Linked DNA regions of Homo sapiens. The protein of the gene in region 2 purifies or fractionates together with the protein of the main gene of each other region. This does not show direct contact. Each region holds a gene or a part of one and is shown on either strand. Other genes may lie near its edges.

Region 1 (3,814 bases), on a different chromosome or scaffold from region 2:
CTGCAAATGTCCAGATTCCTCCAGCTTGTCCTTACCCCAGTCCAGGTGCCCACAGAGTGAGCATGTGGACTCGGGCCTGGTGTGTGTATGGTAGGAGAGGGCAGAAGAGCCCCACTGTCTCCCTCTGGTCATTCCTGATCCAGCTGTACCCCCCCTTCTTACCCCTTCCTTCCCTAGAGGACCACAAGCTGGTGTTCCTACAACAGGGCCCACTGTTGCTCGTGGCCATGTCACGGACTTCTCAGTCAGCAGCCCAGCTGCGGGGGGAGCTGCTAGCTGTGCACGCACAGATCGTGAGCACACTTACACGTGCAAGTGTCGCCCGCATCTTCGCACACAAGCAGAACTATGACCTCCGCCGCCTGCTGGCTGGTTCAGAGCGCACACTGGACCGACTTCTGGACAGTATGGAGCAGGACCCAGGAGCCCTGCTCCTGGGTGCCGTGCGCTGTGTGCCCCTTGCCCGCCCGCTGCGAGACGCACTAGGTGCGCTCCTCCGACGTTGCACAGCGCCTGGCCTGGCGCTGTCAGTGCTGGCAGTAGGCGGTCGACTTATAACAGCAGCCCAGGAGCGAAATGTGCTGGCCGAGTGCCGGCTGGACCCAGCTGACCTGCAGTTGCTGCTCGACTGGGTGGGTGCACCAGCCTTTGCGGCGGGTGAGGCTTGGGCACCTGTGTGCCTGCCCCGCTTCAACCCTGATGGTTTTTTCTACGCCTACGTGGCCCGCCTGGATGCTATGCCTGTCTGCCTGCTGCTGCTTGGCACCCAACGTGAAGCCTTCCATGCCATGGCCGCCTGCCGGCGCCTGGTTGAAGATGGGATGCATGCCCTTGGTGCCATGCGTGCCCTTGGGGAGGCTGCCAGCTTCTCTAATGCCTCATCAGCCAGTGCTCCTGCCTACAGCGTGCAGGCTGTCGGGGCGCCGGGCCTCCGGCACTTCCTGTATAAGCCGCTGGACATCCCTGACCACCACCGCCAACTGCCCCAGTTTACCAGGTAGGCCCTGACCCTAAGGCAACTGGCTGGGTGGGAAGGCCTGTCAAACCAGGAAGTTCAGCATCTCAGGGATGTGACTCAGGAGAGATAACCAGCCATGCTTAAGAAAGAGGGAAGAGAACAAGTCTCTGTCTGATGATGGAGCATCAGCCACAGACCTAAAGGAATCCCCCTCTTCTGGTGGACAGCAGGGCCCTAGTACTCAGGGAATCTCCTAGTTTGATGAGGGAAGGTCAGCCTCCAACCCCTGAGAATCCTCAAGTCTCATGGGAGAGGCTCAGCTCCCTAACTTCATTGAAATCTCTAGACTGAGGGAGGAAATGGGCCAGCCAAGAAGGCCCTGGACTAACCTTGTCCTCCACCTCCCTCCATCATGGCAGCCCTGAGCTAGAGGCCCCCTACAGCAGAGAGGAGGAGCGGCAGCGGCTGTCGGACCTGTACCACCGCCTGCATGCTCGTCTCCACAGCACCTCCCGACCCCTGCGCCTCATTTACCACGTGGCTGAGAAGGAGACACTACTGGCCTGGGTAAGTTGGGCAGGGCTCTGAGTGAATTAATTCCCCACTTCAAGCCTCCTTTCCCTATATTGTATCCCCTCCAGCCACAGTGCCTCCACCAAACACAGCAGGCCTCTGGCTGGGCTGTGCCTTGCCTGCAACACTGTCCCTGCCTTTACACACACATCTTTGAAGCCCCTGACAACTAATGACCGTGTCTCTAATCCGACATTAGCCTCACCCTCCTGTGTGCTTCTCCCAGATTAGCAACCAGGACAGTGTCTTTGACTTTCCAGAGGCCCCATTAACTACCACTGCTGTGCCTGCCGATTCCCCAGTAGCCCAATCCATGTGTTTGGAGGCACCCCATTCATCACCAGCTCATTGTGACTCCATGAGTCCCCAGCACTCCTCAGACTACAGGCGTGGTCCCTTGCTGTGCCCTCCACCTGGGGTATCCTTCCCTTTGGTCTCCTCTGGGCTCCAGCCCTCACTTCCTATGGGTTTGCTAAAGGTCAGCTACTAAGGGAGGCCAGTGAAGGAGGCCTCATCAGAAATGGCACCTGCCATGTAATGCATATTTATTAATTTATTGCGTGACTGCTGTGGATCAGGTATTGTCCTAGGCTAAGAATTTTGTTTTTAAATTTTTTTAACTTTCATTTTCAAATAACTTTAGACTTAGAAGCTGCAAAAACAATATAAAGAGTTTTTATATTTATATTTATAAAGAGTTATAAAGGGCGTGGTGAAAACCACGCCTGGTCAGATGGTGGTTTTCCTAACTCCATCATTCTTTCTACATTTATTGGCTGGGATTTTACTATAAAGAGTAACATGGGGCCGGACGTGATGGCTCACGCCTGTAATCCCAGCACTTTGGGAGGCTGAGGCAGGCTGATCACTTGAGGTCAGGAGTTCGAGACCAGCCTGGCAAACATGGCAAAACCCCGTCTCTACTAAAAATACAAAAATTAGCTGGGCGTGGTGGTGCGCACCTGTAGTCCCAGCTATTCATAAGGCTGAGGCAGGAGAATCGCTTGAACCTGGGAGGTGGAGGTTGCCGTGAGCCAAGATCGCGCCACTGCACTCCAGCCTGGGCGACAGAGTAAGACTCCATTTCAAAAACAAAAAGGAATAACTTTTCCTTCTCCTATTTATTGAATTTTTAATTTTCTATCAATATTGTCTCATGGATTTTTCTTTAATTCAGTGAGCTAAAATCCTTCTCTAGCATTTATTTTGGTGTTCAGATTGCCTCTGATTTAGCCGGTGGGTACCCTGATTTAGCCAGGCTGATCCCTGTGTCTCTGACACGTCCCCTTCACTATGTGAGCACATCTTACTTGACTTTCTCTATTCCAGTCCTCAACTCAGCCATTTTTCCATGGAGCCCTTATACCTTTTAGTAGAGATTGGAATTTTAAAACCAAGATATGGGCCAGACACGGTGCCTCACGCCTATAATCCCAGCACTTTGGGAGGCTGAGTCGGGGTGGGAGTTGGGGGGAGTGGGCGGCGAGTCACAAGGTCAGGAGTTCGAGACCAGCCTGGCCAACAGGGTGGAACCCCATCTCTACTAAAAATACAAAAAATTAGCTGGATGTGGTGGCATGCGCTTGTATCCCAGCTACTCGGGAGGCTGAGGCAGGAGAATCGCTTGAACCTGGCAGGCGGAGGTTGCAGTGAGCCGAGACCGTGCCACTGCACTCCAGCCTGGGTAACAGAGTAAGACTCTACGTCAAAAACAAAAAAACAAAAACAAACAAAATATATGTTAGGAGCAGAATTTTAAACCAAGTGATCAGGGTGGCCTCCCTGAGCAGATGGCATCTGAGTGGAGTAGGGAGGTATTGAGCTACGTGGATATTAGGAGGAAGAGTACACCTGGCAGAGGGAAAGGACTGATATGCTATGAGGTGGAACCAAGCCTGGCTATGTTTGAGGAATAGCAAGGAAAGGGTAGAGTGGCCGGAGCAGAGGGAGTGAAGGGGAGCGCTCTGGGAGGTGGCACAGGAAAGGCGCTAGTGACCTTGTGGGGTCAGGCCTCTCCATGTGGTATGAGGCATAAATTGAGTTCCTCTTTATATTATTCCCTGGCTGTAGATGATGAAAACATAGTTGTAGGAGCTTAGAGCAGGACCTTGTACACAATAGGTTACTGACAGAATATTAAACATTGTTACTGTTTTCCCCAGTTCCCAATGAGCAAACAGGTCTAGAGAGTACCCACACACACAACCAGCATCATCCAGTTGAAGTCACTAGGTCCAGCTGAAATTGCACAATATCAGCTTACCTACCTTAGCCCAGTATCTA
Region 2 (3,814 bases):
GTGAGCCACTGCGCCCAGCCTTATTAATCGCTTACTGTACTGAATTTATAAACATTATCACAGGCATGTATGTACAGGAAAAAACACAGCAAGTGAAGGGTTTGGTACTGTCCCCGGTTTCAGGCACCTCCCGGGGGTTTTGGAACACATGGCCTTTGGCTCGGGGGTACTGCTGTAGAAAGCCTTTTCTGAGTCCTGTAGTACTTCTAGAGAACTCTTACCCTAAAGGTGGTCACGGGGACTCCCAAACTCGCAGTGGGTGTCAGAAGTGAGGATGGTCTTGGAGACTCATGAACTTTGCAACTAGAAATCACTGAACTGTACATTTTAAGTGTACGAGGGTGAGTTGTATGGTACGTGCATTGTATCTCAAAGTCATTAAGAAAAAGGTAAGGACCCTTTAACATAGCCACAATCCCATCATCACACCCCACAATATGTCTGTAGATTGACTCTAAAAATAGAAATGCAGCCGACAGCATATTACACACCAGGGTTATGGAGATTTCAGCCATTACCTGGGTCATTCAAAGGAGGATGATTTTTTTCTTGAGATGGGGTCTCAAACTTTCACTCGATACACAAACGGACATTCTTCCTACTCCAATTCCTGCTCTGAATTACACCTCCAACATTTTGGTTTGCTTTTTCAGACCACATCTTTCTGTATGCTCTTCCTGCAATCTCCCCTTCCCTGCCAGTCTGTCACAGCCCAACTTTAAGTGACTCTCAAGCACACCATGTGATGAATGAAACATCTTTTTATCTTGGCGGCTTGAACCCTAGAGCCCTCCCTCCTCCTGCTGTCACGGAGCTGCTGGAGGTGGGGTGCCGCCAGCAGACCTGAAGAGCCTTATCACCCCAAGATTTCCTTGTACCGTCTCACACATGAGAACTACTGTTCTGGATTCCCAAGTGTTCCTTCTTGGTGTGCTCACTTATTCTGCTGACGGATGACCCTGTGTAACACCCTCAGGAAAGGTGCATGACGGTAAACTTTTTGAGGCTTTTCATGTTGAACGTGTTTTTTTTTTCTTTCTGAGACAGAGTCTTGCTCTGTTGCCCAGACTGGAGCACAGTGGCGTAAGCTCAGCTCACTGCAACCTCCGCCTCGCGGGTACAAGTGATTCTCCTGCCTCAGCCTCCGGAGTAGCTGGGATTAGAGGCGTGTGCCACCTCGCCTGGCTGATTTTTTGTATTTTTAGTAGAGACAGGGTTTCCCCATGTTGGCCAGGCTGGTCTCGAACTCCAGACCTCAGGTGATCCGCCCACCTTGGCCTCCCAAAGTGTTGGGATATAGGCATGAGCCACCATGCCCTGGCTAATGTCTTTCTTTTGTCTTATCTGTGGTTGACAGCTTGGCATGGCAAAGAACTCTACGCTCAAATTCATTTTCTCTCAGAACTTTGAAAGTCTCTCTTCCACTGTCACATAATGTCTGGTGCTGGATATGAAACTGTTGATACCAGTTTCATTATTTTTGAGAGGGTTTCACTCTGTCACCCAGGCTAGAATGCAGTGGTGTGATCATAGCTCATTGCAGCCTCCAACTCTTGGGCTCAAGCGGTTCTCCTGCCTCAGCCTCCTGAGTAGCTGGGACTACACATGAGCACTGCCATGCCTGGCTAATTTTTAAACATTTTCCTGTCGACACAGGGTCTTACTATGTTGCCCAGGCTGGCCTCCAACTCCTGGCCTCAAGTGATCCTCCCACCTTGGCCTCCCAAAGTGCTGGGACTGCACCTGGCCCATTTCAATTTTATATTAATAGATACAACTCTTCTAATTAGTGGATACTAATTTTTAAAGTTCTTGTCTGTCCTCGGAATCATGTTTCTTTCGAGACCTCTAGTTTTGTTTTTGCAGCCATATTTAACAATGAGGGAACCAGAAGGCTGACCAGAGATGGAGGCTTCACTCTGAGTGTAGGATGAAGGTCTCAGTTCTGTCTGGGAGAAAGAAATGCCAGAATGAGCAGGGCCTCATTCTCAGGGGCAGACATCCACGTTAGCCACTCTGGGTCTCTTCAGACTGTTTCCTTTCTTTAAACAGACCCTCGATTGTCACCCAGGGATGGATGCTCAGCTGTGGGCCTGTCTGTGCAAGGATGGGGGAAGGGGAGGCTGACTGGCCTCTCTGCCACACTTCACTTCCCTTCCCCACCTTTCCAGGCCCAGGCCCCACTCTGACTCCTCAGGTGACCTCCTCCAAGTCAGGAGCCTCTCTGGGCTTCCACAGGGCTGTGGGTCCTTGCCTTAGCACAGGGTTGCCACTCATATTCCAGGCCTGCTCCGGCACCGCCCTCTATCAGGCATGGTTTACAAGTCCCGTCTACCTTCCAGAGAGGGACAGGACTCCCTCATCCTGACACATCCCGCTCCTTCCTGTTCCCCCACGGCATCATTTCTGAGCCTTTATAAATGAAAACTTCTCCACAGCCTCAGGCAGGAAAGAGGAGAAACACGTGCACATGCTCCGTCTTCTTTCTTGAATCAAAAACTGCCTTTAATTAGAAACACAACCTGAGTACATATCCTTACAAGACCATGTCCTGACAGAAACAAAATACAATCCTTATGGAATTAGCAAGCCTACAGCTTTAAAATCAGAGCAAAAGCAGCATATGCACAGACACGTGGCTACGGCCCCCATCCAGAGCCATTTCGAGAACAGGCAGCACCAACCTCTGACAGCCTTTGGTTTGAGAGCACGTGAGACTTCACACGTTTATAAATCACAATCTTAAACAGTTCCTCTTTCACTAATAACAAAACTGTTTAAAAGGAGCTGAAAATAAACTTATTACGCTGGAAGAACACCCATTTTGAGTTTTACCATAATCAGAACTTCCAATATCTTTTCCAAGAAACATTTAAGAGGTTTGCACATGCACTCGTGTACACATGCAAGAAAGATCCACTTCAGCACAATCATTAACGCTGGAAGGAAAACAGTTGTTACCTTATAAACGATTAAATGGAGCTCTTCATAAGTGTCATCTGTATTTACAAAAATTTTGGGGAATCTGCATTTTGCATCTGGATCATTGAGGTTCAAGGGTCCGGTAAGAAATCTTAAAAGCAAGAACAGACATGACTTGATTCAACGAGGTGAAGGAGAATCAGGAATCTAGAAACAGAACACACTCCCACTTCATACACACCAGTTGCTTTTGATGCCAGGTGCTATTTGGCAAACACCATATCAGAATATGCTGGCTGGGCGTGGTGGCTCATGCCTGTAATCCCAGCACTTTGGGAGGCTGAGCTGGGTGGATCACCTGAAGTCAGGAGTTCAAGGGCAGCCTGGCCAACATGGCAAAACCTCGTCTCTACTAAAACTACAAAAATTAGCTGGTCGTGGTGGTGGGCACCTGCAATCCCAGCTACTCAAGAGGCTGAGGCAGGGGAATTGCTTGAACCTAGGAGATGGAGGCTGCAGTGAGCTGAGATCGTGCCACTGTACTCCACACTCCAGCCTGAGCGACAGAGAGACACTCCATCTCAAAAAAAAAAAAAAAAAAAAAAAAAAAAAAAAAGGGTATGCTGAAGTAAGTTTTAACTCATTGGAAACAACAAACTTTCCTTTGTTGATTACTGTCAATCAGATGGCACAAAGATATTTCAATGTCCATATTATCTTTACCAAAAAGATAATAGGCCACGCATGGTGGATCACACCTGTAATCCCAGCACTTTGGGAGGCCAAGGCAGGTGGATCACTTGAAGTCAGGAGTTCAAGACCAGCCTGGCCAACATGATGAAACCCTGTTTCTACTAAAAATACAAAATGAATTACCCAGGCATAGTGGCTC

The links.
Region 1: the proteins of CCZ1 (region 2) and MON1B purify together in Homo sapiens (affinity purification with mass spectrometry; 2 studies listed by BioGRID and IntAct, with this or other methods). This does not show direct contact.

What each region holds. Positions count from the first base shown.
Region 1 is NC_000016.10:77,194,158-77,197,971, forward strand, and holds part of MON1B (vacuolar fusion protein MON1 homolog B), read left to right. Parts: intron 1-177; coding exon 178-997; intron 998-1,377; coding exon 1,378-1,525; intron 1,526-3,814.
Region 2 is NC_000007.14:5,912,102-5,915,915, reverse strand, and holds part of CCZ1 (vacuolar fusion protein CCZ1 homolog), read right to left. Parts: intron 3,074-3,814; coding exon 2,962-3,073; intron 1-2,961. UniProt on the Homo sapiens protein: Acts in concert with MON1A, as a guanine exchange factor (GEF) for RAB7, promotes the exchange of GDP to GTP, converting it from an inactive GDP-bound form into an active GTP-bound form.